Linked DNA regions of Homo sapiens: all the other regions are linked to region 5. Evidence: fine-mapped expression QTL. A gene starts in region 5. Each other region holds a variant in brackets. All regions are shown on one strand. Distances are between the middles of the regions.

Region 1 (6,273 bases), 62 kb before region 5:
CAGGGGATCAAGGCCCCACATGCAAAGGCACTGGGACAAGAAACCATTTTTGTTGGTTTCACTTTTTCTTCCTGAATCCTAAACCTGGGTCTTCCAATGGCCCATTTTTCTTACCTATTCACCATGTTCTCCCTTCATGATTTTACTGGCTACATCATTTTTAATTATTGCCTCCCACTTTAGAAATGGTCTCTCTGCATTGACTCAGTCCCAAATTTTCAACTACTAGGTTAGATGCCCAGCTATCAATAGCAACCCAACATGTCTACAGTAGGTTTCACTCCCACCCCTTTGCCTTACTCCAAATCATTTTCCTGACTTCTTTGTTTCTGTTAAGAACAGACAGCACCATCTTCTTAATCATCTGGCTGAAGCTGGCAAATCCTACTGCCTTACTCTTCTCTCCTTCATCTACCACATCTTCTTGTAATTCTTCTCAAAAGCATCCTCAATTTTAATTATTTTACAACTTTTAGTGTTAAAGACTTGATACTGCTCAATATTCTAGTGTATTAGCCCATGATCTTCTTGTGGAAATGGTAGAAATTCCAACTCAAATTACCTCTCATAAAGATAATAATTTGTGGGAAAATGTAACTGAAAATTAGACTTCAGACAGGGCTGGATCCAGGTCCTCATTACTACCAAATATCACTCTCCATATTACTGCTCTAGTTCTCTCTGACTTGACAGCACTCTCAGTCACTTTTTCTTATGTAATAGCAAACAGAACTTTGGGTTTACATCCTACCAACTGGCAACCCCATTGGTAAGAGGATACCTCACTCATGGTTCCAGCAAACACTCTATGAATGATCGTTGTGGTTTCAGAACAATGCGCTGTATGTTTTCTCCTTGGCCAGACCTAGTTCACTAACCCCACCCTCAGAGTGGGGGTTAGATTAGCCCCACCCAAATCACAATGACTTAGAGTGGAAAAGACGGTCCCCAAAAGCAGAATTGAAGAGCTACTACCCTAAACTGAGAAAGGACAGCTAGTTGGCCAAAAAAATTAAAAACATATAAAATATCCCTCCAGTATGTTCCTTTATGGTATTTCTTAATTCCAATTTCATTCCAGTTTAAGTCACTCTATTCCCTGTTTGCAAATTAATCTTAAAGATACATTTGATTATTTCTTCCCACTGTTGATGAGTGTTCAATGACTCCTCACTAGAAGCCCTACGGTGCTCGGGGAATAGCAATTTGCAAGCAAGTGTGAAAAATTTCAGAGCCCTCCTTGAATGAGAGGGAGAGATTTTGAAAGAGGTGAAGCTTTAATGAATAATCAATGTGGGTGAGTGAAGGAGTTACAGTTTTATTTCTGGTAGCCCAACTGGACACCTTGGGTTAGTGTAGCTTATAAACAAGTCTGTTACATAAGAATTCACCTGTCATGGATGGGATTCATAGAAAAGCATCCAGAAAGGCAGAATTTGGCAGCTCTGAGTTTCCTGTGTAGCTGTCAAAATCCTTATTTCACCTACTGGAGTCCTTTGGCCCTTCTACTGCCCCAGGAGAGCTACATGAGTTTTTCTCTCTTTCTCATATGTCATGAGCCCCACTAGAATGCAATACTATGAGGACAAGGAATGTGTCTATTTTATTGATGTCTATATCCCAATGCCTAACAGAGCACCTGGAAAATTGTACCTTTAATATTTATTGAATAAATGAATGAATGAATGGTAAATGCCAAACAATGTCTTTCTCACTTCAACATATGTTAACCCAGAGTCTTACATATAGCATAGTCTTGCATACAGATGGATTTAACTTTTTTCAAAACACATATTTAAAAAGGATTCTAGTCATATGTTTTTGTTTGGGGCCAGCGAAAATTTTGAGAATTAAGCTGATTTGAATTATCTACGCACCAGAGTTCTAAAATTGATAGATTCTAATCATAAAACTGTAGAATGTTCACAAACAAGAGGGAGGTACTCACCACATTCTATTTTTCTGTGCCATTCCCATTTCAGTGTAAGCACCACTGAAAGCAAACACCAAAAACATTTTCAAACAAATGTTATCTATTCTTAGATGTGAATCATGCCACTGTTAGCCAACCATGAGTAAAACTACCATCGTGCATGCACATCCTTCCTCCCAACCTAGAAAAATTCTACCCGTCCCAGGGTCTTCTGACCTTGACACTCACCCTCTGCACTGCTAGGTGGCCATCCGGGCTCAGCATCTAGCAGTTTTTTTGTTTCTGTTTTTGTTTTTTGAGATGGAGTCTCTCTCTGTCGCCCAAGCTGGAGTGCAGTGGCATGATCTCGGCTCACTGCAACCTCTGCCTCCCGGGTTCAAGCTATTCTCATGCCTCAGCCTCCTGAGTAGCTGGGATTACAGGCATGTGCCACCACGCCTGGCTATTTTTTCTTCTCCTTTTTTTTTTTTTTTTTTTTGTATTTTTAGTAGAGACAGGGTTTCAACATCCTGGTCAGATTGGTCTCGAACTCCTGACCTCATGATCCACCCGCCTCGGCCTCCAAAAGTGCTGGGATTACAGGCATGAGCCACCGCGCCTGGCCGCATCTAGCAGTTTTTTACTGCTTGGGAAACCTAGTGAATTTTAATGCCATTGATCAACTCTGCTCAAACACTCCTGGCATGAACTGAGCAAAGCCCTGGTTCCTAGGCAGCCATTACAAAAGCACAAGGATTTCCAAAATAAAAAGAGACCCAGAGCACACTTGAATCAAGGGCAGTTGCACTGTTTATTTGCAAGTGATTGGATTGCACCCCTACCTTGGTTAAATGGTTTATTTCTCTATGAATTACTCTAGAAAATACTACTACTCTAGCCCTTCCAATTTTTAACTAAGCTGAAAGTATTTTTACTTTTTCCAGACTCTCAGTGAGGAAAGAATGAGGTATGTTTTAATGCTGGAACTTCTAGCAAATAGTAAGTGTTCAATAAATACTTGTTGAATTAACTAATTAATTAATATGTGGGCACAAAAGCTTGCTTTTGCATCCTAAAGCAATCATGGCCTCTGGGGAAAGCCAGGCTTGCTGTATCCTGAGGCAATCACTCACTCTGGAGAAATCCAGCCTCCATGTTGAGAGGGCACTCAAGCCATCTATGGAGAGACCACATGGTTAGGAACTAAGGCCTCCTGCCTACAGCCATGCAAGACAGCCATCTTCAAAACAGATCCTCCAGCCTCAATTAAGCTTTCAGGTGACTATAGCCCTTGCCAACATCCAACTGCAGTCACATGTAAGACCCTAAGCCAGAACCAGCCAGGTAGGCCATTCCCAAATTCTTAACCAGCAGAAAGAGGAAAATATAAGTTAAATGTTTATTATTTTAAGCCATTACGTTTTGGGGGTGATTTGTTATGCAATAGATAATACAATCTATTTGTTTATCAATAGATTATATTGATAACACAATAGATAATACAATAACAATTTGTTTGCAATAGATAATACAATCTTCTTTCACCTTGTCTGAGATGACAGCTTATTAAAATACAAACTCCTGGAAGGCAGGTTTTCTGTCTTATTCCCTCCTGTATTCCTGGTATCTTGTATGCATCCAATAAACAATGAGTAACAACTCACTTA[A/G]TGACAAGCTGGTTCCTAATTTTGTATAGAAAACTATATATGTTCACACACAGAAACAGAAGTAGAATTCTTCAAAAAAATGATACTTTTTAGCGAAAAAGCGTTAGATAGCATAATTATCCAAAAAGGAACTATTGGAAATTATGGAAAAAAATGTTATTAGAATTCACATAATCCTCCTCCCTTACTGGGGTGGGAGGGAGCTACCTATAGAAGGAATACAGGGCCTTGAAGTATTCAAAGAAATAACAATTAACAAAGGGCATAGTTTGAGGAGCCCAGCTTCTCATGAGAAGAAAAAGGCATTGCAAGGTGGCACAGAGGGACTAAGATCTCAAGCTCTACTTGGAGGTTTTCTTGAAGTGCTCCTGAAGCAATATCATAAAAGGAATTTGAGAATACAAGGCCAGTTGAACAAGTTAACCCTTCAGCCCCTTTCTAACTTGAGCTGTTGTGATTGCTCCTGTCCTCTGCTAGCCTGAGAAAGCTCAAGAGGAAGACCATGGGGCCACCATTTTCCACATTCACATTCACACATGCCCTCTCTCCATCAAGTATCTTATTAGACTATCTGTTGGAGTACAGGCTAAATAAGTGTCCTCAAATAAGTGATGGTGAATAATGGCAGCACGTCCCTGTCCTGTTCCCTGACAATAAAGCTGGTATAGATTAAAGGCAAGATTTATCCTCCCTGGAACCTCAGGTAATGAACTGACTACCTGTATTCAAATCAAAGACACACTCATGCGTTCTTTTCTTTCTAACAGCTCAATTTCCAGAGTTGATATTGTGTACTCTGCCACATGCTGTGAGGTATGTAAGAAAAGTGGCATGTGGCCTGGCATCTCAGTTACTTATCACCCCCCTCCAGAGCCAGGGAGCAGTTTCAAATGTGTTCGATTGCCCAAGATCTAAAAATTAAAAATAGTAATTTAAATGTCCCAGATCAGAAAATCATATTCTTCTCTTCTTTCCATTTGTTGCTTTTGAGTCTCGCCACGACCACAATATCAGGTACACAGCAGGCCTCTAAAACTCAATATTACTATTGCTGTTAGTTCCATTGATTCAAGAAAAGCTTGTTGGGCATCAACTATGTGCTAGCACTATACTAGGTTCTTTATATACACTATTTAATTTATGTCAATAGCAATCCAATGCGCTGGGGAAAATGAAGCTCAAAGATTTTGAATTATTTACCGGAGGTTGCAAAGTTAGGGATCGGCCCAACTCCAAACCCAGGTTTTTCTGGTTAGCCCTGCTGCCCTAATCAATACAGTCTTTTAAATGAAGAAGAACTTTGTATCCACCAAGATAATGAATCCCAAGATTCTCACCACCCCTGCTTTCTTATGTGTTAACCAAGATTCCAATGTTTTGAAAGACTTTAATTGCCTGGCTGAATTTATTTAAAGAGAATATTCCTCTGCTTATGGAAAAATATTTGAAACTCCCAACCCAGGTCTTTGCTCAACATGAGACAATCAGATTTATCACAGAATCCATAATGATCCTAGCATAAGCAGTTGACATTTTACCAAGGCATGGCTTTTCTGAAATATTGACAATTGTTCTAAGTTCCTCATCATTCTGGTCTTACCTCCCAGAGATTTTTAAGGGAGACATTTAATACAATCAATGTAGTGTTTCAAGAAGGAGGTTCTATTCTGATATTAATATAAAAGGAGACCAGTGTTAGGCCCTCAGTTGATGCCCCACTTCTCCCAGCCCACTCCATGTTAACCCAGCAAGGAGAAAGACATGGAAGAGGGGAGGCAGGAGGGCAGGGTGTGAGAGAGAGGAGATGGCCTTGAATTCAGTAGGTCCGGAAGCATATAAAGGAGAGTGGCAGGCAGCACCAAGCATCCTGCTGTTTGACAATGCTGCCACCTTCTGGCATATATTGGAAATTTACTAGAAAAATATTACTAGTCACTGTCATTTTATAGATAACCCAGAAAGATGTGATCGGATATACGAATAAAGTTTGTTTTAATTACCTCCAAGGTATTCCTGGTATCTATTGAAACTAGAATTCAATACACTTACTTTTCAAGCTCCTGTCTTTTAAAGTATTCCATACTGTGCGTGGACGATTAGAGAAACTTCCTGGATGTCATACTTACCTCCATGCAGGCTCCCTTCCAATCCAGTCCCTCCCCCCACCCACCCCCTGCCTCTAGCAGTCAGAGTCTCCATGACTTAATTTCACTTGGAACAAATTCAAATGTGTTTCTCTGGCCCAGGAAGGATCCCAAACTGGTAGCCTGCAAGCCCAGTTACAGCAGCTCAGCTTTTATATAAATGACCAGAATAGTGTTTTAAATGACTACAGTGGGATACCCCCATGTCTCAGTCTTCCAGCAACTTCCCAACCACACCCAATACACATACACACACACACACACACACACACACCTATTCACATACTCATTTACGCACATGGCCCCTGAAGTCAACAAAGTTTACTTGGAAATTTACATTCATCCAGAACCTCAGAATGTGCCCTTATTTGGAAATAGAGCCCTTGCAGATGTATTTAGCTAAAAAGAAGTCATGCTGGATTAGAGTGAGCCCTAAATCCATGACTTACGATGGACATATAAGGACATATAACTTATGTCCTTATAAGAAAAGACAATTTTTTTTCAAGATGGTGGATTAAAGCCTTTTAGTGTGTGCTCAGCCACTTGG
Region 2 (6,166 bases), 41 kb before region 5:
TCTAGGGTTTTCTCTCTGTACAACTCTTTCTTCTCTGTACTCTGTCCTGAAAACTCTAGCTGCCTTGGCTTCCCCAGACTCTCACCTTCATCCATTCAACTCGAGGAGGTTCTTAGGCTGTTCTTGGGTTCCTCCTTCCTGTGCCATGCTGGAAACTCTCTCAAGACAGTAATCTGGGGCAATCAGAGGGCTCACCTTGGTTTTCTTCCATTTCTCAAGGCTCACTGTCCTTTTTAACTGCTGTCCAATTACTTGAAAACCATTATTTCATATATTTTGTGGGTTTTTTAGTTGTTTCCAGCAGAAGGAAAAATCCAGTCTCTGCTACTCCATGTTGGCCAGAATCAAAAGTTTACTTTCATTTTTGAAAGTTATTTTGCTGAAAATTATTGTCAATTCTAGATTGATAGTTTTCCTTTATTTTGCTTTGCTTTTTATCATGGATTTGCATTATAATCATCAATAATTGTAACCTTTCTTTCTCTGAATGCATTGGGTCTTTCTGTGCCTGCTTTTAAAGTTATCCCTTTATCATTGGTTTTCAGGAATGTGATTATTGTACATCTTGGGATAGTGTTCTTGTGTGCTTATCCTGTTCAGAGTTCACCAAGCCATTTGGGTCTGTGGAGTTTGGTTTTTATTACATTTTCATTAAATTTTCAGCACGTATTTCTTTTAAGTATTGTTTTTGCTCACTTTAGTTATGGGGCTCCAATTACATGTGTTATATCGTATCACAGGTCCTTGAAGGTCTTTGCACTTTTTGTTTTTTGTGCTTCAGTTTAGCTTCTATTACTATATCTTAAATTTCATTTATCATTCCATCTGCATTACCTATTCTACTAACAAGCCTGTACAGTGTATTTTTATTTCACACATGATATTTTTTAGCTCTAGACATTCCATTTCGTTATTTTCAATTTATTCTTTTCTTTCCTCAATAGGCTTCTGTTTTCTTTTAAACACTTGAGCATATTTATAATAAGCTGTTTTAAAGTCCTTATCAGCTAACCCACCATCGTCATCCCATCTGTCATTTCTGTATTCTGTTTATTAACTAATTGATATGTTATAGATCACATTTACCTGCCTCTTCCCATGTGTAGTAATACTGGAATTGTGAATGTTGCATTATTGAATGTGTCTGGATTTTGTTGTATTCCTTTAAGAAGTGTTAAATTTTGCTTTAGCTGGCAACTAGTTATATGCAGATCCACTTGATTCTTTTGAGGCTTGTTTTTATACTCTGTTAAAATGGGGTTTATACAGCCTCCACTCTACATCTTATCCCTTCTACTAAGACATGATCCTTCTGGGACTTCTAATGAATGTCCTGAGTGTTCAATGAGTTCTGTCCATGGTAGCTGGTTGAAACCCAAATATCTGCCAGAACCAGTCAAGCTCTAGAAATTTTGCAGGCTACAGCTAGCTGATAGCTTTTAAATCTACTATTTTGAAGCCTTATGCTATACATGCACAAGTTAAGTATTTAGACCAAGGCTCAAGGTACCCTATGTAAGTTACTGGATAATACTCCCTCTTTCCTAGAACTCTGCCCTAAAAATGTTAGTTCCTTTGGCCTCCTCAACCTCCTATCTCTGTGTTGTTAACTCAGAGAGACCACTCCACCTTATACAGGTTTCTCTTTCTGAACTGTGGTTCAGAATGTGCTCCAGGCAGAAACCTGGGGCAATCTTAGGACTCCTGTTTGTTTGCCTGTGCTTCCTATTACACAATATCTGAAAACAGTTGTTTAGTATATTTTGGTGAGGTTTTTATTTATTTGCAGAAAGAGAGCAGATTCACTAAAAGCTATTTAATCAAGCTAAAAGTGAAAGCCTACTCAATATTTTAAGAAATATATCTGAAGGTTGATGTCTGCTCTAGAGATGGAGGTTAGGTAATTATTTGAAAAATAGACAGCAAATGAAATAGTAACTGTGAACAATATTGCCCAGGAAATGTATAACAGTTAGAATTGGGTTGAGAGAGAAGTAATGCAGATCCAACATAATGGTAATTTCAACAAGAAATTGATTTTCATTCATGCAGAAGTAAAAAGTAGGCAGTGTAGGGCTGACAGCGCAGCTGTGTTTCACAAAGTCCTCAGGAACTTAGTCTTCCTCCAACTCAATGCTCTGCCCTCCCATCTGTATTCCAGCAGACAAATGAATAAAGGGACTAGTAAGAGACAAGGAAGGCACACACTAACCGTCTTTAAGAATGGTTTCTGGATATTAACTCAGAAAACTGCTGCTTACATCCCCCTTGTCATATGGCCAACCTAGCTGTATAGGAAACTAGAAAACATACTATTTCTTCTGAATGACCATGTGCTCATTTAACAATGCTATCATACTGGTAGCAGTGGAAAATGGATATTGGAAGTCAATATTTTGTGTAGACACTCGTTTCTCTGCCACAAATGTATAAAGAGAATAGATGAGACCTAGAGAGGTCCACTGTTTAAGGATGAATAAGTATAAACATAGCCTATAAGGGATAATGGGTTGCCTACCCTGACTGTCTCTCACGGATTTCTTCCCACTCCCTCTTAAATCAATTCCAATCAAGTTTTCTTACTACAAGCCCATGAAAATTGCTTTTGTCAAAGTTATCAATGACCTCAATGTAGCAAAATTCAATAGTCAGTCCTCAGTTCTCCTCTCAATCTATTAGCACCATTTGATCTATTAGCACTGTTTATATCACACTTAATGAAGTTTTTGAAACCTTTTTCATATGGCTTCCAAGTGTCACATTCTCTCCTAGTTTTCTCCTTACTTTACATTCAGTCTTCCTCATCTTCTTTGATGTTCTCTCCTCTTCACTCAACCTCTAAACAGTAGGGTTCCCTAGGGATTCGTCTCTGGAACTTCTTACTCTCTCATAGTGATTTTTCACTGCTTCCTAAGTGGTCTTATCCAGCCTCATGACTTTAATACATCTATAGTGTCTGTGCTCAAATGATTGTCTTCAACTCAGGCATCTTCCCGAATTATATGCTACAACCTTAATATCTCTACTTGGATAAATAATGACACTTGTTACTTTCTAATATACTATATAATACATTTATTTATTTTCTCTTTTTTTCCACTGAAATATAAAATCAATGGGAAGTGGAACTCCAGGTGCATAGAATAATGACTGGAACATACTAGGCCTTCAGTAAATAATGTTTAGTGAATAAAAAGAAATAGGTGATAGGGAAAACAAGAGCACTACTTCTCTGCAGCCACAAAAGGAGGAAATTTGAAGAAGGAGTGAGTAGTTCATAGTGTATAATTCACCACAGAGAATGTTTAAAATCGTAGAAGGTGAAAGAGAGGCCGGGGCAATCATCCAAGACTGCCCAGACCCCCAGGTGAGCCCTCCTGCCGTTCT[A/G]CATGCCATGACCTTAAGCACTGGAAAACACAGGTTTCAATCCATAGTTTGCAGAGGAACAGAAACCATCTCATTTAATTGATAAAAGAGTTGAGAAAAACTCATTTACCCTATTGTCTTTGTGCAAATATAATTTGGACAGAGCTGCCCATGCTGAGGATGAGCATGGTGCGGGGTAGGGGAGAAGGTGGGAAGTGACAGAGATTCCATACAAGCACACTACAGGAAAAGAAGAGAGTGGAGGAATCAATTCAGGTAGAAAACATAGCTCAAGAAAAAGAACAGTTTTATGCCATGGAAGAATCTAAGAGAAATACTTTAATAAGGTAAAAACCTCAAAGCTGCAAAGATACAACAACAGAAATATGTGAAAAGAGAGACTGTAAAGCTAAGGAAAAGAACTGAAGGTCACAACACAATATCTGAACTGATGAATTGGAAAGTAATTATAGTTGAGAGTTGAGTTATAGACATAGAGGAAAGAGCTGCCGTGATCTCAGAGAATGCAGACGAAAAAAAATCAAAGATGCAAGAATTAGACAAGATAATGTATGGAGAATCCTAAAGGACAATTGGTATCTGTGAGGTAGGGAACCTAACAAATAGAATATAAAAGATATTTAATTATTATAAGAGGAAATTTTCCTGAAAGGAAAAAATGAATCTGTAGCTCCCAGGAAAAGTGACATAGAGTGACTGAGACACAGGTATTGCCTGGTTAAAGTGCTTAACTTCAAGGATGAAGAAAGAATTCTTCAGGCATACATTTAGATGTATATGCAAAGAGTTTGGGAAAATTTGACTAGCCTTGTTCTTCTTCAAAGCATCAATAAGTCAACGGGAGACCTTTGCATGGCTACAAAAGACTGAGGGCAAGAAGGTGTTACCTGCTACCTAAAAATATAATCTCTCTCCAAGGAATTCTTCAAGAACAAAGGCAAGAGGCAAAGTTTCTCAAATATGAAGGGACTTGGGGAGTGAAGCACTACTGAAAAAATTATTTGATCACAGCCATTCAAGGAATAAAACAAAATGACTGATACTTACCAATGAATAAATTTAAACAGACTGGGAACGGTGGCTCACACTTGTAATCCCAGCACTTTGGGAGGCCGAAGCAGGCAGATCACTTGAGGCCAGGAGTTCAAGACCATCCCGGCCAACATGGTGAAACCCTGTCTGTACAAAAAAAAAAAAATACAAAAATTAGCCGAGTGTGGTGGTACATGCCTGCAATCCCAGCTATTCAGGAAGATGAGGCACAAGAATCACTTGAACCTGGGAGGTGGAGGTTGCAGTGAGCCGAGATCGTGCCACTGCATTCCAGCCTGAGTGACAGAGCAAGACTCTGTCTCAAAAAAAAAAAAAAATTTGATAAAGAATTAACACTAAACAGCCATGAGGGATACGGTTACACTCCTTGGCAATTTACAAATAATAAAATAATTGGAGATAGGAGATGATAGAAGAGCAAGATGGGAGAAGAACTCATTTTCTTGCCTTTTTTAGCAGAAAAAAAGTAAACACTGTTTAAAAGTGAAGACATGATGTGAGCAATAGGGATTACTGGAATACACTAGAGTGAAGTGGTGATTAGTCACTTCATTATTGTCATGTGAAAATGTCAGCCAAGGTGATTCTGATGAGACGTCATATTTAAAATCTTGGTTGATAATTCTAGATGACAGGGAGCATCTAAAGGATTTTAGGCAGAGGAGTGACATACAAAGGTTGCATTTTTAAATTATTCCCCATGCCTGCTGTGATATGAGCCTCCAGGATTCAAGGAAAATTTGAAGAGAACAAGATGGTGGCAGGACAACCAGCTGGGAGCACGAGACCAGCTGTCCAGGTGAGAAGAGGAGGGCTATGGTGAGTCGGCTGGACTGTGTTGATTGGGGATTAAGGAGAGGAGTCAAGGTGGACTCCCAGGTTTCAGCTTAGGAGGCGAGGTGGCATTAGCAAATGACACAGAGAGCACAGAATGAGACAGATACATGACCAAGAAAATGTGACAAAATATTAATAATTGAGGAATATGCACATACACACACACACACACGTGGGGGCTAACATTTAATGTGAAACAATTTCGGACTCACAAAATGTTTCCAGGAAAAAAAAAATCTCTTCTATATCCTTCACCCATATTCCCCAATTACTAATACTTTATCACATTTACTTGGTCACTTATCTGTCTATCATCAAGTCAACTTACTTTTTGTTGCATTTCAATGTAAGTTACCGTTATCGGTACACTTCACCCAAAACAATTCAAAATGCACACCATTAACTAGAGTCAGTATTTGTTTTTATTATTTTGAAGTAAAATTTATACATAGTGAAACGCTTACGTCTTTAACATACTATTTGAGGAGTTTTGACAAATATATAAACTCTTGTCAATATATAAACTCTTGTCAATATATAGAGTATTCCACCACCCCAAAACATTTCCTAAAGTCTCTACCCATTACTGTCTCTACTCCACCTGGAAACGCAGAGAGGCACAGCCCTATCTCTTGCACCCATAAGGACACTCACAGCATAGACTGGGCGAGGGCCAGCATCTCTGGACTGACTGCCCATCAGGGAGGGCTTAGGCCTCAGCCAGCTGCTGCAGCAACGAGAGAGTCCCATAGAGGGCAGACAGGGGCATCTTTGCTTCTACATCCCAGGTTGACCTGGGGTTATCCAGCTCCATCCTAAGGCCACACTCCTCCAGCAGGCCATAGGTGATGGCCAAACCCTCACTCTGGAGTGGGGCGAGGAGCTCAGG
Region 3 (6,273 bases), 69 kb before region 5:
GTTGGATCCACTCCTTCACACTGAGCTGCCAGTGCTGGGAGGGCCTAAACCTCATCTGTCCCATGATTATTGCCGCTCCAGAGATAGTTCAGTGCCCATCACAGAATGTGGGCTTAATAAATCTTTATTCAATGAGTAAAAAGACAGAAATAGTCTGTTTTTATTAATTCACTCATTCATTCATTCCTCCGTCCATCCATTCATCCAACCAGTGTTTCTCAAAGGGAACTTGTTACAAAGAGAGAGCTTCTTTCATGACCAGTGCCTGGGAGGCAAAAGAGACTTTAATAATGTTTTATTTTCACTGTGTATCTTATTGTTGTCATCTATCTATAGCAAGTGATACTGATTTTCCATTTATGGTAGTGATTTCAAGTTTCATTTTGTCCAAATTTCTTCCTCCAAAATAAGAAGTCGATTTAAATTTAAAAACTTCAGTAAATAAACACACAGATTTTATAATTACATGGCCAAAATCCTCTAAAATGAAGACATTCTCAGATGAAAGATGGCTAAGAGGATTTGTCACCAGCAGACCTGCTTGAAAAAAATTGCCAAAGGAAGTTCTTCAGGCTGAAGAGGAATTATATCAAAAGGAATAAAACTTTGGAATTAAAAGAAGAGTGGCATAAATGTAAATAACTTGATAAATATAGAGATGATTTTTCTTCTCTTAAATTCTTAAAAATATGTACAACGATTGAAAGCAAAAATTCTAACATTGTCTGGGAGGTCTCCAATGTAATAGACATAATATACATGTCAATTATAATACCAAGGGTAAGGTTAAAATGACCTGAATGATGGTAAGGCGTCTATGCTTTACCTGAAGTGATAACATATTAACTCTAAATAGAATGTGAACATTTAGGTGTGTATATTGTAAAGCTCAGAAAAACCACTAAAATAATATAAATATTAAGACACAGGGTCATAAACAGTGTCTCTTCCCCAACCTAGATGTGAAAGCCTTATGATTTTCTGGGCAGTAGACAGAATACTCAGAGGGTCTTCTTAACTCAGTAGTGGAAAATAATCAGTCCTAGACTAAACACTGTTCTGGCCCAGCCTATAAAAAAGACATAAAAGCAACACTCCAAAAAATCTGTTTCCAAGTAACTTAACAGTGTCCCAGAACAAGACTCTGTAATATAGGAACACAAAAATATCCAGCATCAAACAGGGTAATTAGAGTCCCTAAATGAGAGTGATAGGAGACAGAAAAAAAAATATTTGGAGAAATATTTCTCTAAAATGTCCAAATTTGATGAAATCAGTAAACCCACAGAACAAGAATCTCAAAACCCTGAGTACAAGTAGTGAAAGAAAAACTATCAACCTAGAATTCTATGCCTACCTTAAATGAGTTTCAAAATCAAACTAAAATAAAGTCAAAAGAAAAACTTTTACAGATATATGAAAACTAAACAAATTTATTCACCAGCAAAGCTGCATTACAAGAAATACAAAAAGACATCATCATTTAGGCAGAAGGAATATGATATCAGACGGAAATGTGGATCTACGCAGTTGAAAAAATACCCCTGGAAGTGGTAACTGCATGAGTAAACATATAAGATTTTTTATTATTTAAATATCTTTAAACAAACTAATCTGTTTAAGCAAAAATAATAACAATGTAGTACAGGTTTTATAATACATGTACAAGTAGAATATATGTCAAAAATATCATAAGGTTGTAAGGAGAAAAATAGATAATGCCATTGTAAGTTTTTTATACTGTACATGAAGTAGTATAATATTACTTGAACCTAAAGCAACTTCTAAAATAACAATACAAAGTTATAGCAAATAAGCCAACAAAGAAGATAAAAAGGAATTATTTGTTTAAAAAATTACTCATTCCGAAAGAAGGCAAGAAAAAGGAAACAACATATGGGCAATTTTTTTAAAAAGTGGCAAGATGATAGACTTAAACATGCCATATCAAGAATCCCATTAAATGTAAGTGGTCTAAATATCCAAATTAAAAGGCAGAGATTTTCAGAATGTGGGAAAAAGCAAGACACAATCATATGCTTTCTACAAGAAATGTACTTTAAATATGAAGACACAAAGAGATTAAAAATAAAAAGGTAAGAAAAGATATAATGTATTAATACCAATCAAAAGAAAGATGCATTTGGTATTTTATTCTCTTTGTAGCAATTGTGAATGGGAGTTCACTCATGATTTGGCTCTCTGTTTGTCTATTAGTGGTGTATAGGAATGCTTGTGATTTTTGCACACTGATTTTGTATCCTGATACTTTGCTGAAGTGGCTTATCAGCTTAAGGAGATTTGGGGCTGAGACAATGGGGTTTTCTAAATATACAATCATGTCATCTGCAAACAGAGACAACTTGACTTCCTCTCTTCCTATTTAAATACCCTTTATTTCTTTCTCTTGCCTGATTGCCCTGGTCACAACTTCCAATACTATGTTGAATAGGAGTGGTGAGAGAGGGCATCCTTGTCTTGTGCCAGTTTTCAAGGGAGTGCTTCCAGGTTTTGCCTATTCATTATGACATCGGCTGTGGGTTGGCCATAAATAGCTCTTATTATTCTGAGATACATTCCATCAACACCAAGTTTATTGAGAGTTTTTAGCATAAAGGTGTGTTGAATTTTATTGAAGGCCTTTTCTGCATCTATTGACATAATCATGTAGTTTTTGCCATTGGTTCTGTTCATATGATGGATTACATTTATTGATTTGCATATGTTGAAGCAGGCTTGCATCCCAGGGATGAAGCTGACTTGATCATGGTGGATAAGCTTTTTGATGTGCTGCTGGATTCGGTTTGCCAGTATTTTATTAAGGATTTTTGCATTGATGTTCTTCAGGGATATTGGCCTGAAATTTTTTGTTGTTGTTGTGTCTCTGCCAGGTTTTGGCATCAGAATGATGCTGGCCTCATAAAATGAGTTAAGGAGGAGCCCCTCTTTTTCTATTGTTTGGAATAGTTTCAGAAGGAATGGTACCAGCTTCTCTTTTACCTCTGGTAGAATTTGGCTGTGACTCCATCTGGTCCTGGG[C/CT]TTTTTTTTTTTTTTTTTTTTTTATTGGTAGGCTATTAATTACTGCCTCAATTTCAGAACTTGTTATTGGTCTATTCAGGGATTGGACTTCTTCCTGGTTTAGTCTTGGGAGGGTGTATGTGTCTAGAAATTTATTCATTTCTTCTAGATTTTCTAGTTTATTTGTGTAGAGGTTTGTATTTCTGTGGGATCAGTGGTAATACCAGCTTACAAGGGATGTGAAGGAACTCTTCAAGGAGAACTACGAACCACTACTCAAGGAAATAAGACACAACACAAACAAATGGAAAAACATTCCATGCTCATGATAGGAAGAATTAATATCGTGAAAATGGCCACACTGCCCAAAGTGATTTATAGATTTGATGCTATGCCCCTCAAGCTACCATTGACTTTCCTCACAGAATTAGAAAAAAACTACTTTAAATTTCATATGGAACCAAAAAAGAGACCATATAGAAAAAACAATCCTAAGCAAAAAGAACAAAGCTGGAGGCATCATGCTACCTGACTTCAAACTACACTACAAGGCTACAGTAACCAAAACAGTATAGTACTGGTACCAAAATATACATATATATACCAGTGGAACAGAACAGAGGCCTCAGAAATAACGGCACACATCTGCAACAATCTGATCATTGACAAACCTGACAAAAACAAGCAATAGGGAAAGAATCCTCTATTTAATAAATGGTGTTGGGGAAACTGGCTAGCCATATGCAGAAAACTGAAACTGGACTCCTCCCTTACACCTTATACAAAAATTCACTCAAGATAGATTCAAAACTTAAATGTAAGACCTAAAACCATAAAAATCCTAGAAGAAAACATAGTCAATACTATTCAAGACATAGGCATGGGCAAAGACTTCATGACTAAAACACAAAAAGCGATGGCAAAAAAAAGCCAAAATTGACAAATAGGATCTAATTAAACTAAAGAGCTTTTGCACAGCAAAAGAAACTATCAACAAAGTAAACAGGCAACCTACCAAATGGGAGAAAATTTTTGCAATCTATCCATCTGACAAAGGGCTAATATACAGAATCTACAAGGAATTTAAACAAATTTACAAGAAAAAAACAAACAACCCCATCAAAATTGGGCAAAGTATATGAACAGACACTTCTCAAAAGAAGACATTTATGCGGCCAACAAACATATGGAAAAAAGCTCATCATCTCATCACTAGTCATTAGAGAAATGCAAATCAAAACCACAATGAGATACTACCATCTCACACCAGGTAGAACGGTGATTATTAAAAAGTCAGGAAACAACAGATGCTGGAGAGGATGTGGAGAAATTGTAACGCTTTTACACTGTTGGTGGGAGTATAAATTAGTTCAACCATTGTGGAAGGCAGTGTGGAGTTTCCTCAAGGATCTAGAACCAGAAATACCATTTGACCCAGCAGTCCCATTACTGGGTATATAACCAAAGGATTATAAATCATTCTGTGATAAAGACACATGCACACATATGTTTACTGCAGCACTATTCACAATAGCAAAGACTTGGAATCAACCCAAATGCCCATCAACGATAGACTGGATAAAGAAAATGTGGCACTTATACACCATGGAAATACTATGCAGCCATAAAAAAGGATGAGTTCATGTCCTTTGCAGGGACATGGGTGAAGCTGGAAACCATCATTCTCAGCAAACTAACACAGGAACAGAAAACAAAACACCACATGTTCTCACTCATAAGTGGGAGCTGAACAATGAGAACACACGGACACAGGGAGGGGAGTATCACACACCGGGGCCTGTCAGGAGGTGGGGGGCTAGGGGAGGGACAGCATTAGTAGAAATACCTAATGTAGATGACGAGTTGATGGGTGCAGCAAACCACCATGGCATATGTATACCCATGTAACAAACCTGCATGTTCTGCACATGTATCCCAGAGCTTAAAGTAAAATAATAACAAAAAAAATCTTGAAAAAGAAAGATGCATTTGGCTATATTAAATTCAGACGAAATGGACTTCAGAAGACACAATATTACCACAGATTATAATGTTCATTTCATAATAATAAGAGATCAATTCATCAAGCAAACATAACAATTCTGAATGTTTATGTACCTAATAATAGAATTTCAAAATACCTGAAGTAAAAACTGATAAAACCAAAAAGAGACGTAGAAAAATTTACAATTATGGTGTAAGATTTCAATATCACTAACTCAGTAATTAATCAAACAAATTGACAGAAGATTGGTAAGGAAACTGAAGACTTGATCAATACTATCAACTAACTTGACCAAATTAACATTTATAGAATCCACCACTCTATATAAGCATAATACACATTTTTTTCCAAGAGTACATGGAATACTTACGGAGGTAGATCACATTTTGGGTCACAAAATAACTCAATACATTTAAAAACGATTCAAGTGGCCAGGTACAGTGGCTCACACCTGTAATTCCAAAACTTTGGGAGGCTGAGGCAGGCAGATCACTTGAGGCCGGGAATTTGAGACAAGCCTGGCCAACATGGTGAAACCCCGTCTCTACTAAAAATACAAAGATTAGCCAGGTGTGGTGGTGTGCACCTGTAATTCCATCTACTCAGGAGGCTGAGGCACAAGAATCTCTTGAAATCAGGAGGCAGAGGTTGCAGTGAGCCAGTATCACTTCACTGCACTCCAGCCTGGGCAACAGAGCAAGACTCCATCTCTAAATAAATAAATAAGTAAATATCCAAGTCACATAACTACTCCAATAACAAGTGTTCTCATCCATAAATGGGAACAATATCTACCCTTTAGGAGTCCCTATGAACAATTCGAAACAATATGTAAAAGAATATGAACAGAAAAGACACTCAATCATGTAACTATTATAATGTGCTCAAGGTAGCCAAGCTAGAAAGTAGACAGGATCCAGAGTAGAAGCCCTAGTCTGCCAAACATCAAAGTCAATACTTCCCAATATACAAATCAGATACCCTCACAGTGTTTTGGTGAGAAGAAATAGAATAGTGCTTGTGATCATCCTTTGTAGGCTAAAGACCACAAATTCACATGTAGCAAATAATTACTATTATTATCAACATTTGAGGTTATGAATTTGAGTATGTACAATGTCCTGATATCAGGATGTATCAAAAAGTTTCTTTTTTTGTCTAAATTCTCATTTAATAGAGTATGTTTTAAAAGCCAATAACTTGATTGTCTCCTGAGTACTGTAATAAACATATACACGTTCACATCCACA
Region 4 (6,273 bases), 52 kb before region 5:
AACTACCTTAAAGGGATTGGCTTCTGTGATTATTATTAAGTCTAACAAGTCCAAAACCTGGAGTGTGAGGCAAGAGGCTGGCAACCCAGGAAAGCTGATGGTGCGGGTCCAGTCCAAAGGTATCTGTTGGAGGATTCTCTTTTTCTTGGAAGAGGACAGTCTTTTTTCTCTTCAGCCCTTCAACTGACTGGATCAAGCCCACTAACATCGAGGAGGGCAGTCTGCGTTATTCAAAGTTCACTGATTTAAATGTCAATCTCATGTAAAAACACCCTCACAGAAACACCCAGAATAAAGTTTGACCTTATAACTGGAAAGTCAGAGCAAAAGTTAAATATCTAAAATTTTAAAAAAATATATGACCAAATAGTTGGGCACCCTGTGGCCCAGCCACATTGACACCTAAAATTAACTGTCACAGCATCCTCTTAGAAGCAAGAGGAGAAGCAAGAGAAGCCCCTTTATTCTGCAGTGTCCCTCTACCACCACCTACTGACAAAGAACGTGGTGCTGTCTGGCAAAAGGGAAATGTTCAGTTTGCCATGACTTGAATGTGTCCCCTCAAATTCAAGTGTTGCCAATACAATAGCATCAAGAGGTGGGGCCTTTAAGAGGTCACTGGGCCACAAGGGGTTCTCTCTCAGGACTGGGATTAAGGCCCTTATAAAAGAGCCTTCAGGGAGCATCCTGCTAGCTTGCTTTCTGTATGTGAGAACACAGCAAGAAAGCCCTAGTCGAACAAGTGCCAGATCATTGATCTTAGATTTCCCATCCTCCAGAACTGTGAGAAATATATTTCTGTTCTTTATAAATTAAAAAAAAAAAAAACTTGCTGAAAGAAGTGCAGAGGGCTATAGAAGGAAAGCCAAAAGACCCTACCCAGCATTCTCTACAGTTACACCCCCTAGGGAGGGGGGAAAAGGGAAAGAAAAAATAATACTATTATAGGGAAATAAAAAGAAAAACTCCTACCCACACTAAAATAATTACAAATATTAGAAGTGCCAAGGTCTCCAGATGAGAAGGAACCAGCACAAAAAATCTGAATGTAGTGACACCACCAAATGATCACACTGGATCTACAGCAATGGTCTGTAATCAAAATGGAAACTCGGAAATGACAGATAAAGAATTCAGAGTATGGATTGCAAGGAAGCTCAATGAGCTCCAGGACAAGGTTGAAAATCAACACAAAGAAACTTCTAAAGGATTCTCTTCCAAGATGGCCGAATAGGAACAGCACCGGTCTGCAGTTCCCAGTGTGATTGATGCAGAAGACGGGTGATTTCTGCATTTCCAACTGAGGTACCTGGTTCATCTCAATAGGACTGGTTGGACAGTGGGTGCAGCCCACAGAGGGCAAGCTGAAGCAGGGTGGGTCATTGCCTCATCCAGGAAGTGCAAGGGGTCACGGGATTTCCCTTTCCTAGCCAAGGGAAGCCGTGACAGACTGTACCTGGAAAATCAGGACACTCTCTCCCAAATACTGTGCTTTTCCAATGGTCTTAGCAAACAGCACACCAGGAGATTATATCCCGCATGTGGCTCAGCAGGTCCCACACCCACGGAGCCTTGCTCACTGCTAGCGCAGCAATCTGAGGTCAACCTGCGAGGCAGCAACCTGGCAGGAGAGGGAGGTGTCCGCCATTGCTGAGGCTTGAGTAGGTAAACAAAGCAGCTGGGGAAGCTCAAAGTGGGCAGAGCCCACCACAGTTCAGCAAGGTCTGTTGCCTCTGTAGATTCCACCTCTGGGGGCAGGGCATAGCTGAACAAAAGGCAGCAGAAACTTCTGCAGACTTAAACATCCCTGTCTGACAGCTCTTAACAGAGCAGTGGTTCTCCCGGCATGGTGCATGAGCTCTGAGAATGGAAAGACTGCCTCCTCGAGTGGGTCCCTGACCCCCATGTAGCCTAACTGGGAGACACTTCCCAGTAGGGGCCAACTAACACCTCATACAGGCGGATGCCCCTCTGGGATGAAACTTCCAGAGGAAGGATCAGGCAGCAATATTTGCTGTTCTGCAGCCTCTGCTGGTGATACCCAGGCAAATAGGGTCTGGAGTGGACCTCCAGCAAACTCCAACAGACCTGCAGCTGAGGGACCTGACTATTAGAAGGAAAACTAACAAACAGAAAAGAATAGCATCAACATCAACAAAAAGCACATCCACACCAAAACCCCATCTGTAGGCTGCCAACATCAAAAACCAAAGGTAGATAAAACCACAAAGATGGAGAGAAACCAGAGCAGAAAAGTTGAAAATTCTAAAAACCAGAGCGCCTCTTCTCCTCCAAAGGACGACAGCTGGTGAGGACCAGCAATGAAACAAAGCTGGATGGAGAATGACTTTGATGACCTGACAGAAGTAGACTTCACAAGGTCAGTAATAACAAACTTCTCTGAGCTAAAGGAGGATGTTCAAACCCATCACAAGGAAGCTAAAAACCTTGAAAAAAGATTAGATGAATGGCTAACTAGAATAAACAGTGTAGAGAACACCTTAAATGACCTGATGGAGCTGAAAACCATGGCATGAGAACTACGTGATGCATGCACAATCTTCAACAGCCGATTCAATC[A/T]AGAGGAAGAAAGTGTATCAGTGATTGAAGATCAAATTAATGAGATAAAGTGAGAAGAGAAGTTTAGAGAAAAAAAGTAAAAAGAAATGAACAAAGCCTCCAAGAAATATGGGACTATGTGAAAAGACCAAATCTACATTTGATTGGTGTACCTGAAAGTGATGGGGAGAATGGAACCAAGTTGGAAAACACTCTTCAGGATATTATCCAGGAGAACTTCCCCAATCTAGCAAGGCAGGCCAACACTGAAATTCGGGAAATACAGAGAACACCACAAAGATACTCCTCGAGAAGAGCAACCCCAAGACACATAATTGTCAGATTCACCAAGATTGAAATGAAGGAAAAAAATGTTAAGGGCAGCCAGAGAGAAAGGTCAGGTTACCCACAAAAGGAAGTCCAACAGACTAACAGCAGATCTCTCAGCAGAAACTCCACAAGCCAGATGAGAGTGGGGGCCAATATCCAACATTCCTAAAGAAAAGAATTTTCAACCCAGAATTTCATATCCAGCCAAACTAAGCTTCATAAGTGAAGAAGAAATAAAACCCTTTACAGACAAGCAAATGCTGAGAGATTTTGTCATCACCAGGCCTGCCCTAAAAGAGCACTAAACATGGAAAGGAACAACTGGTACCAGACACTGCAAAAACAGCCAAATTGTAAAGACCATTGATGCTAGGAAGAAACTGCATCAACTAACAAGCAAAATAACCAGCTAACATCATAATGACAGGATCAAATTCACACATAAAAATATTAACCTTAAATGTAAATGGGCTAAATGTTCCAATTAAAAGACACAGACTGGCAAATTGGATAAAGAGTCAAGACCCATCAGTGTGCTGTATTCAGGACACCCATCTCACATGCAGAGACAGGCTCAAATAGAGGGATGGAGGAAGATCTACCAAGCAAATGGAAAGCAAAAAAAAGCAGGGGTTGCAATCCTAGTCTCTGATAAAACAGACTTTAAACCAACAAAGATCAGAAGAGACAAAGAAGGCCATTACATAACAGTAAAGGGATCAATTCAACAAGAAGAGCTAACTATCCTAAATATATATGCACCCAATACAGGAGCACCCAGATTCATAAAGCAAGTCCTGAGTGACCTACAAAGAGACTTAGATTCCCACACAATAATAATGGGAGACTTTAACACCCCACTGTTAATATTAGACAGATCAACGAGACATAAGATTAACAAGGATATCCAGGACTTGAACTCAGCTCTGCACCAAGTGGACCTAATAGACATCTACAGAACTCTCCACCCCAAATCAACAGAATAGACATTCTTCTCAGCACCACATCGCACTTATTCCAAAATTGACCACATAGTTGGAAGTAAAGCACTCCTCAGCAAATGTAAAAGAACAGAAATCACAACAAACTGTCTTTCAGACCACAGTGCAATCAAATTAGAACTCAGGATTAAGAAACTCACTTAAAACCACACAACTACATGGAAACTGAACAACCTGCTCCTGAATGACTACTGGGTAAACAACAAAATGAAGGCAGAAATAAAGATGTTCTTTGAAACCAATGAGAAAAAAAACACAATGTACCAGAATCTCTGGGACACATTTAAAGCAGTGTGTACAGGGAAATTTATAGCACTAAATGCCCACAAGAGAAAGCAGGCAAGATCTAAAATTGACACCCTAACATCACAATTAAAAGAACTAGAGAAGCAAGGCCAAACAAATTCAAAAGCTAGCAGAAGGTAAGAAATAACTAAGATCAGAGCAGAACTAAAGGAGATAGAGACACAAAAAACCCTCAAAAAATCAATGAATCCAGGAACTTGTTTTTTGAAAAGGTCAACAAAACTGATAGACCGCTAGCAAGACTAATAAAGTAGAAAAGAGAGAAGAATCAAATAGACACAATAAAAAATGATAAAGGGGATATCACCAACAATCCCACAGGAATACAAACTACCATCAGAGAATACTATAAACACCTCTACTCAAATAAACTAGAAAATCTAGAAGAAATGGATAAATTCCTGGACACACACATGCTCCGGAAGAAATTGAATTTTTGAATAGATCAATAACAGGCTCTGAAATTGAGGCAATAATTAATAGCCTACCAACCAAAAAAAGTCCAGGACCAGATGGATTCACAGCCGAATTCTACCAGAGGTACAGAGAGGAGCTGGTACCATTCCTTCTGAAACTATTCCAATCAATAGAAAAACAGGGAATCCTAACTCATTTTATGAGGCCAGCATCGTTCTGATACCAAAGCCTGGCACAGATGCAACAAAAAAAGAGAATTTTAGACCAATATCCCTGATGAACATCGACGTGAAAATCCTCAATAAAATACTGGCAAACCAAATCCAGCAGCACATCAAAAAGCTATCCACCACGATCAACTCAGCTTCATCCTTGGGATGCAAGGCTGGTTCAACATATGCAAATCAATAAACGTAATCCATCACATAAACGGAACCATCGACAAACAACACATGATTATCTCAATAGATGCAGAAAAGGCCTTCGACAAAATTCAACAGCCCATCATGCTAAAAACTCTCAATAAATTAGGTATTGATGGGACGTTATCTCAAAATAATAAGAGCTATTTATGACAAACCCACAGCCAATATCATACTGAATGGGCAAAAACTGGAAGCATTCCTTTTGAAAACTGGCACAAGACAGGGATGCCCTCTCTCACCACTCCTATTCAACATAGTGTTGGAAGTTCTGGCCAGGGCAATCAGGCAAGAGAAAGAAATGAAGGGTATTCAATTAAGAAAAGAGGAAGTCAAATTGTCCCTGTTTGCAGATCACATGATTGTATATTTAGAAAACCCCATCATCTTAGCCCAAAATCTCCTTAAGCTGATAAGCAACTTCAGCAAAGTCTCAGGATATCAAATCAATGTGCAAAAATCACAAGCATTCTTATACACCAATAACAGACAAACAAAGAGCCAAATCATGAATGAACTCCCATTCACAATTGCTACAAAGAGAGTAAAATACCTAGGAATCCAACTTACAAGGGATGTGAAGGACCTCTTCAAGGAGAACTACAAACCACTGCTCAATGAAATAAAAGAGGACACAAACAAATGGAAGAACATTCCATGCTCATGGGTAGGAAGAATCAATAGCGTGAAAATGGCCATACTGCCCAAGGTAATTTATAGATTCAATGCCATCCCCATCAAGCTACCAATGACTTTCTTCACAGAATTGGAAAAAACTACTTTAAAGTTCATATGGAACCAAAAAAGAGCCTGCATTGCCAAGACAATCCTAAGCCAAAAGAACAAAGCTGGAAGCATCACGCTACCTGACTTCAAACTATACTACAAGGCTACAGTAACCAAAACAGCATGGTACTGTTACCAAAACAGAGATGTAGACCAATGGAACAGAAAAGAGCCCTCAGAAACAATACCACACATCTACAACCTTCTGATCTTTGACAAACCTGACAAAAACAAGAAATGGGGAAAGAATTCTCTATTTAATAAATGGTGCTGGGAAAACTGGCTAGTCATATGTGGAAAACTGGCTAGTCATATGTAAAAACTGAAACTGGATCCCTTCCTTCCACCTTATACAAACATTAATTCAAGATGGATTAAAGACTTAAATGTAAGACCTAAAACCATAAAAACTCTAGAAGAAAACCTAGGCAACACCATTCAGGACATAGGCA
Region 5 (6,273 bases):
TCAACATCCAAAAATCAGTAGCACTTCTATATGCCAACAGAGAAGAATCTGAAAAAGAAATCAAGAAAGTAATTCCATTTACAAGAGCTACAAATAAAATTAAATTCTTAGGAATTAATTTAACTGAAGAAGTAAAAAATCTCTTCAATGAAAACTATAAAACATTGATGAAAGAAACTGAAGAGGACACAAAAAATGGAAAGATATTCCATGTTCATAGATTGGAAGAATCAATATTGTTAAAATGTCCATACTATCCAAAGCAATCTTCAGATTCTATGCAAATTATATCAAAATATCAATGACATTCTTCACAGAAAGAGAAAAAACAATCCTAAAATTTATATGGAAACACAAAAGACCCAGAATAACAAAATCTATCCTGAGCAAAAAGAGCAAAACTCAAGGAATCATATTATCTGACATCAAATTATACTACAGAGCTACAGTAACCAAAACAGCATGGTACTGGCATGAAAACAGACACACAGACCAAAGGAAAAAAATCGAGAACCCAGAAACAAATCCATATACCTACAGTGAGCTCATTTTTTACCAAGGTGCCAAGAACATACATTAGAGAAAGGACAGTCTCTTCAATAAATGGTGCTGGGAAACCTGGATATTCATATGCAGGAGACTGAAACTAGACCACTCTCTCTCATCATGTACAAAAATAAAATCAAAATAGATTATAGACTTCAATGTAAAGCCTCAAACTGTGAAACTACTACAGGAAAACACTGGGGAAACTCTCCAGGACATTGGTCTAGGCAAAAATTTCTTAAGTAATACACCACCAGCACAGGCAACCAAAGCAAAAATAGACAAATTGGATCTCATCAAGTTACAAAGCTTCCCTCCAGCAAAGGAAAAGATCAACAACAGAAAAAGAGAACCCACAGAATGGGAGAAAATATTTGCAAACTTCCCATCTGATAAGGGAATAATAACCAGAAAATATAAGGAGCCCACACAACTCTATAGGAAAAAAATCTAATAATCAGATTAAAATATGGGCAAAAGAGTTGAATAAACATTTCTCAGAGGAATACATACAAATGAAAAAAAGGCATATGAAAAGGTCCTCAACATTATTAGTTATCAGAAAAATGTAAATCAAAACTACAATGAGATATCATCTCACCCCTGTTAAAATGGCTTATATCTAAAAGACAAGTAATAAAAAATGCTGGAGAGAAGGTAGAGAAAAGGGAAACTTGTACCCTGTTTGTGGGAATGTAAATTAGTACAGCCACTATGGAGAACAGTTTGGACCTTCCTCAAAAAGCTAAAAATAGAGCTGCCATACAACCCAGCAACCTCTCTGCTGGGTGTACACCCAAAAGAAAGAAAACCAGTATATTGAAGAGATATCTTCACTCCCATGTTTGTTGCAGCACTGTTCACAATAGCCAAGATTGGGAAGCAATGCAAGTGTCCATCAACAAATGAACAGGTAAACAAAATGTGGTACATATACATAACAGAGTACTACTCAGCCATAAAAAAGAATGAGATTGGCTGGGTGCGGTGGCTCATGCCTGTAATCCCAGCACTTTGGGAGGCTGAGGCGGGTGGATCAACTGAGGTCAGGAGTTCAAGACCAGCCTGACCAACATGGAGAAACCCCGCTCTACTAAAAATACAAAATTAGCCAGGCATGGTAGCGCATGACTGTAATCCCAGCTACTTGGGAGGCTGAGGCAGGAGAATCACTTGAACCCAGGAGGCGGAGGTTGCAGTGAGTCGAGATTGCACTGTTGCACTCCAGCCTGGGCAACAAGAGCAAAACTCCGTGTCAAAAAAAAATGAGATCCTGTCATTCGCAACAACATAGAGGGGACTAGAGGTCATTAAGTGAAATAAGCCAGGCACAGAAAGACAAACTTTACAATGTTCTCACTTATTTATGAAAGCTAAAAATTAAGACAATTGAAGTTATGGAGATAGAGTAAAATGATGGTTACCAGAGGCTGGGAAAGATATTAGGGGGTGGGAGGGAGGTGGGGATGGTAAATGAGCACAAAAAAAATAGTTAGACTGAATAAGATCTAGTATTTCTGAATAAGATCTAGTATTCGATAGCACAACAGGGTGACTATAGTCAATAATTGTACAGTTAGAAATAACTAAAACAGTATAATTGTATTGTTACAATTAAGAGTATAATTGTATTGTTACAATTATAACAAATAGGAATAGGACTTCCTAACTACATGGAATTCAGTTTTTGAACTTTCTAAATATGTTCAATAATGAAGAGAGACAGAATTTTCAACAGTTCATGTAAAATTCCTGATGTGACCATTTCAATTCTCTGATATGGGCCATGTAAGAGGTCACTGGACAAGCAGAGAATAATGAGAATATAAGATGCTTCTTTAAGACTGGACCTGTGCAATAATGTATCGAAGATATATTCCTTAGCCTTACATGCTATCAGGAATTCTCCATTATTAAGACGAACTTAACTTCCTTTTCAGTCAAATTCTGTAGGAAAAAAAACTCTTCGACTCATTTCACAAACCCATCCAGAACATTTTTGTCGCTGATGATAGTAATCTTTTCTTTTTCATCCCCTGATCCCATTAGGACTTACCAGATTATATATCCCTTTGTCCTGTAGAGAAATAGCAGGATTGGCCGGGCACGGTGGCTCACGTCTGTAATCCCAGCACTTTGGGAGGCTGAGGCCGGTGGATCACGAGGTCAGGAGTTCAAGATCAGCCAGGCCAAGATGGTGAAACCCTGTCTCTACTGAAAATACAAAAATTAGCCAGGAATGGTGGCAGGCACCTGTAATCCCAGCTACTTGGGAGGCTGAGGCAGAGAACTGCTTGAACCCGGGAGGCAGAGGTTGCAGTGAGCTGAGACCATGCCGCTGCACTCCAGCCTGGGCAACTCCGTCTCAAAAAAAAAAAAAAGAGAGAAAAATAGCACAATTGAGTAGGGCCCCTTCCAATCTTCAGACCTCCTGCGGTCAAGTAGAAATTGTCAGACAAACTCCAGGACCAGATCAATGTGATTCTGTTCACTGTTCTCTTCTCACCAATGGGTCCCTGACTCAATTTCCAATGCAGTATCCTGGAAAAATAAGCACAGGAGGGCCCTGTTCATTTCCAGAAGAGTAAGTCTGGAACTAGTTCTGGATCACAGAACCTTAGCTCTCAAGTCCTCAGCAAAAAGTCTGTGGAACAAAATCAAGTGGCATCTAATTATGTATCTCCTGAATCAGAATTAAAAAGGCTTCCTCAGAGTCACACCCATTTCCTTTCACATACAGAACTAGCTGAGCAAGTCTTTGATTCATGGATTCCCAGCAACTCTAGCTGGAACAACTTCTTTGGCTCGTATTCCTCTGGTATATGTGCTGAATTTAGAATTCAATCACTGGACACCAGGAAAGGCAACTTCAGCAGGAGGGACAGGCACTAGCGCCAGGGCCCTGGGAAGCACCTCTGAACTGCCTACATGTGGGGCTCTGTACAACAGGAATTACTGTGCTTAATGCCTCCTCTGTGTTAAGCACCATGCATGTATTATCTAAATCCAATCTTACAACAATCTTTATTTTAAATATAAATAAAAAGGGGATTTGTGAAAGGAATTAAAAACTTGCCTGAAACCCATGTCCTTTCCAATTACTCCCTATGGGTTTCAAGATGAAGTAAAGTGCCTATAGGAGCAGAAACTGTATAAACAGGATTGCTACACCTTTAAGTTTTGAGTAACTTCCTGGAACTGACACTCAATACAGCAACATTCCTTTCAGCTGACAGTATTTCACAATGCATTTACTTTACTTTTGTTTTCTTTTAATATTCATAAAAGTCTTATGCCTTCCCTTTCCACTGTAAGAACCTGATATGCACTTCACTTGGGACAAAGCTCAGACTGTGCTTTCTGCATATCACCACCAGACACGATGTTCCAAATTAACTTTCACGTTCTATAATTTCCATTGTAAAAACTATAGACTTGAAATATAAAATTATAATTACATACATAACCCTTCTGTGTACCAACATTCTATAGGCCCCAACCTGCTATTGGGTATTCCAGAAGTCGGAGAAAAGTAACTTAGCTGTTTGGGAACAGTTATGTGAGTCACACCAACCTAAATAACAGATAAAGAAAAGCTCTCTAAAAGACAGTGATATTTATTCAAGAATGAGCATTGCAATGGGAATATGCGTGCCATCACAAACTATGTGTGTATTCAGACAGGTAAGGGAAGAAAAAAGTTTTAAAAAGAAAAATAAGAAGGATTACACAATTGTTTTGAATCAATTCTTTGCTTACAAGGATCAGTAACAAAGGTGGCACCAGTCCAAGGTTAGACAGGCAGTTGGTGGACAGATGTCCTGGCAGAAGTATTTTTTGTTTAAGGTTGCAATAGCCTTTGTGCAAAGCTGTAGTTTTTAGTTTTGTTTTGTCTTTAATTTTTATGGGTACATAGATGTATATATTTATTTATGGGATATATGGGATATTTTAATACAGGCATACAATGTATAATAATCACACCAGGGTAAATGAGGTATCTATCATCTCAGATATTTATTTTTTGTGTTAAAATATTATACTCTTTTAGTTATTTTTAAATGTACAATTAAATTATTATTGACTATAGTCAATAATATATTGTGCTATCAGACATTAGATCTTATTCCTTCTAAATCTTTTTGTACTCATTAACCATTCCCCCTACCCCTGCACACCCACCCCACTACCCTTCCTAGCGTCTGGTAACCATCATTCTATTCTCTATCTCCGTAAGTTCAGTTGTTTTAATTTTTAGCTTTCACAAATAAGAGAGAACATGTAAAGTTTGTCTTTCTGTGCTTGGCTTATTTCACTTAACATAATGACCTCCAGTTCCATCTATGTTGTTGCAAATGACAGGATCTCATTCTTTTTATGGCTGAATAGTACTCCATTATGTATACGTACCATTTTTTTTATTCATTCATTTGTTGATGGACACTTGGATTGCTTCTAAATCTTGGCTATTGTGAGTGGAACTGCAATAAACATGGGAGTGCAGATATCTCTTCAATATATTGATTTCCTATTTTGGAGGTATATACTTAACAGTGGGTTTGCTGGATCATACGATAGTTCTATTTTCAGTTTTTCTGAGGAAGGCCCAAACTGTTCTCCATAGTAGTTGTACTAATTTACATTCCCACAAACAGTGTCCAAGGGTCCCCTTTTCTCCACATCCTCTCCAGCCTGTTATTGCCTGTCTTTTGGGTAAAATCCATTTTAACAGATGTGAGATGATATCTCATTGTAGTTTTGAATGGTGTTTCTCTGATGATCAATAATGTCGAGCACATTTTCATATGCGTGTTTGCCATTTGTATGTCGTCTTTCAAGAAATGTCTATTTAGAACTTTTGCCCATATTTTAATTAGTTTATTAGATTTTTTCCTGTATAATTGTTTGAGCTCCTTGTGTGTTCTGCTTACAAATCCTTTGTCAGATGCTTAGTTTGCAAATATTTTCTCCCATTCTTTGGGTTTTCTTCTTCTGTTGTTGATTGTTCTTTGCTGGAAGGAAGCTTTTTACTTTGATATGGTTGCATTTGTCCATTTTTGTTTTGGCTGCCTGTGCTTGTGGGGTATTACTCAAGAAATGTTTGCCCATTCCAATGTCCTGGAGAGTTTCCCCAATGTTTTATTGTAGTAGTTTCATAATTTGAGTCCTTAGATTCAATTATTTAATCTATTTTAATTTAGTTCTTGTATATAGTGAGAGATAAGGGTCTAGTTTCAGTCTTCTACGTGTGGATATCTAGTTTTTGCAACACCATTTATTGAAGAGACTGTCTTTTCCCCAATGTATAGTCTTGGCACCTTTGTAAAAAATGAGTTCACTGTAGGTGTATGGATTTGTTTCTGGGTTCTCTATTCTTTTTTCATTGGTCTATGTGTCTGTTTTTATGACTATACCATGCTCTTTTGGTTACTATAGCTCTGTAGTATAATTTGAAGTCAAGTAATGTGATTCCTTGAGTTGTGTTCTTTTTGTTCAGGATAGTTTTGGTTATTCTGGGCCTTTTGTGTTTCCATATAAATTTTAGGATTGATTTTTCTCTTTCTGTGAAGGATGTCATTGGTAGTTTGATAGAGATTGTATAGAATCTGAAGATTGCTTTGGGTAGTATAGACATTTTAACAATATTGATTCTTCCAATCTATGAACATGGAATATCTTTCCATTTTTTGTGTCCTCTTCAGTTTCTTTCATCAATGTTTTATAGTT

Alleles and levels. Alleles are on the strand shown, and positions count from the first base shown. SD is a standard deviation of normalised expression in the study named. Not every link is listed here.
With allele A in place of G in region 1, the expression in left ventricle of the gene that starts at base 3,216 in region 5 is lower (small effect, 0.39 SD a copy in GTEx).
As copies of G replace A in region 2, the expression in thyroid of the gene that starts at base 3,216 in region 5 goes up (large effect, 1.6 SD a copy in GTEx).

The links. PIP is the estimated chance that this variant, and not a neighbour inherited with it, causes the effect.
Region 1: its variant is fine-mapped to the expression of GSDMC in left ventricle (GTEx, PIP above 0.99).
Region 2: its variant is fine-mapped to the expression of GSDMC in thyroid (GTEx, PIP above 0.99).
Region 3: its variant is fine-mapped to the expression of GSDMC in skeletal muscle (FUSION, PIP 0.95).
Region 4: its variant is fine-mapped to the expression of GSDMC in skeletal muscle (GTEx, PIP above 0.99).

What each region holds. Positions count from the first base shown.
Region 1 is chr8:129,721,029-129,727,301 of GRCh38, forward strand. It overlaps a transcript of GSDMC not described here. Among named protein-coding and RNA genes, the nearest start is that of CCDC26, 44 kb to the left of the region's middle. The variant A/G (reference allele first, on the strand shown) is at 3,580.
Region 2 is chr8:129,742,515-129,748,680 of GRCh38, forward strand. It overlaps GSDMC (gasdermin C), which reads right to left. Exons shown (of 14, transcript NM_031415.3): 14 at 5,682-6,166. The coding sequence ends at 5,987. Among named protein-coding and RNA genes, the nearest start is that of GSDMC, 41 kb to the right of the region's middle. The variant A/G (reference allele first, on the strand shown) is at 3,388.
Region 3 is chr8:129,714,211-129,720,483 of GRCh38, forward strand. It overlaps a transcript of GSDMC not described here. Among named protein-coding and RNA genes, the nearest start is that of CCDC26, 37 kb to the left of the region's middle. The variant C/CT (reference allele first, on the strand shown) is at 3,040.
Region 4 is chr8:129,731,476-129,737,748 of GRCh38, forward strand. It overlaps a transcript of GSDMC not described here. Among named protein-coding and RNA genes, the nearest start is that of GSDMC, 52 kb to the right of the region's middle. The variant A/T (reference allele first, on the strand shown) is at 2,581.
Region 5 is chr8:129,783,409-129,789,681 of GRCh38, forward strand. It overlaps GSDMC (gasdermin C), which reads right to left and starts at 3,216. Exons shown (of 14, transcript NM_031415.3): 1 at 2,603-3,216.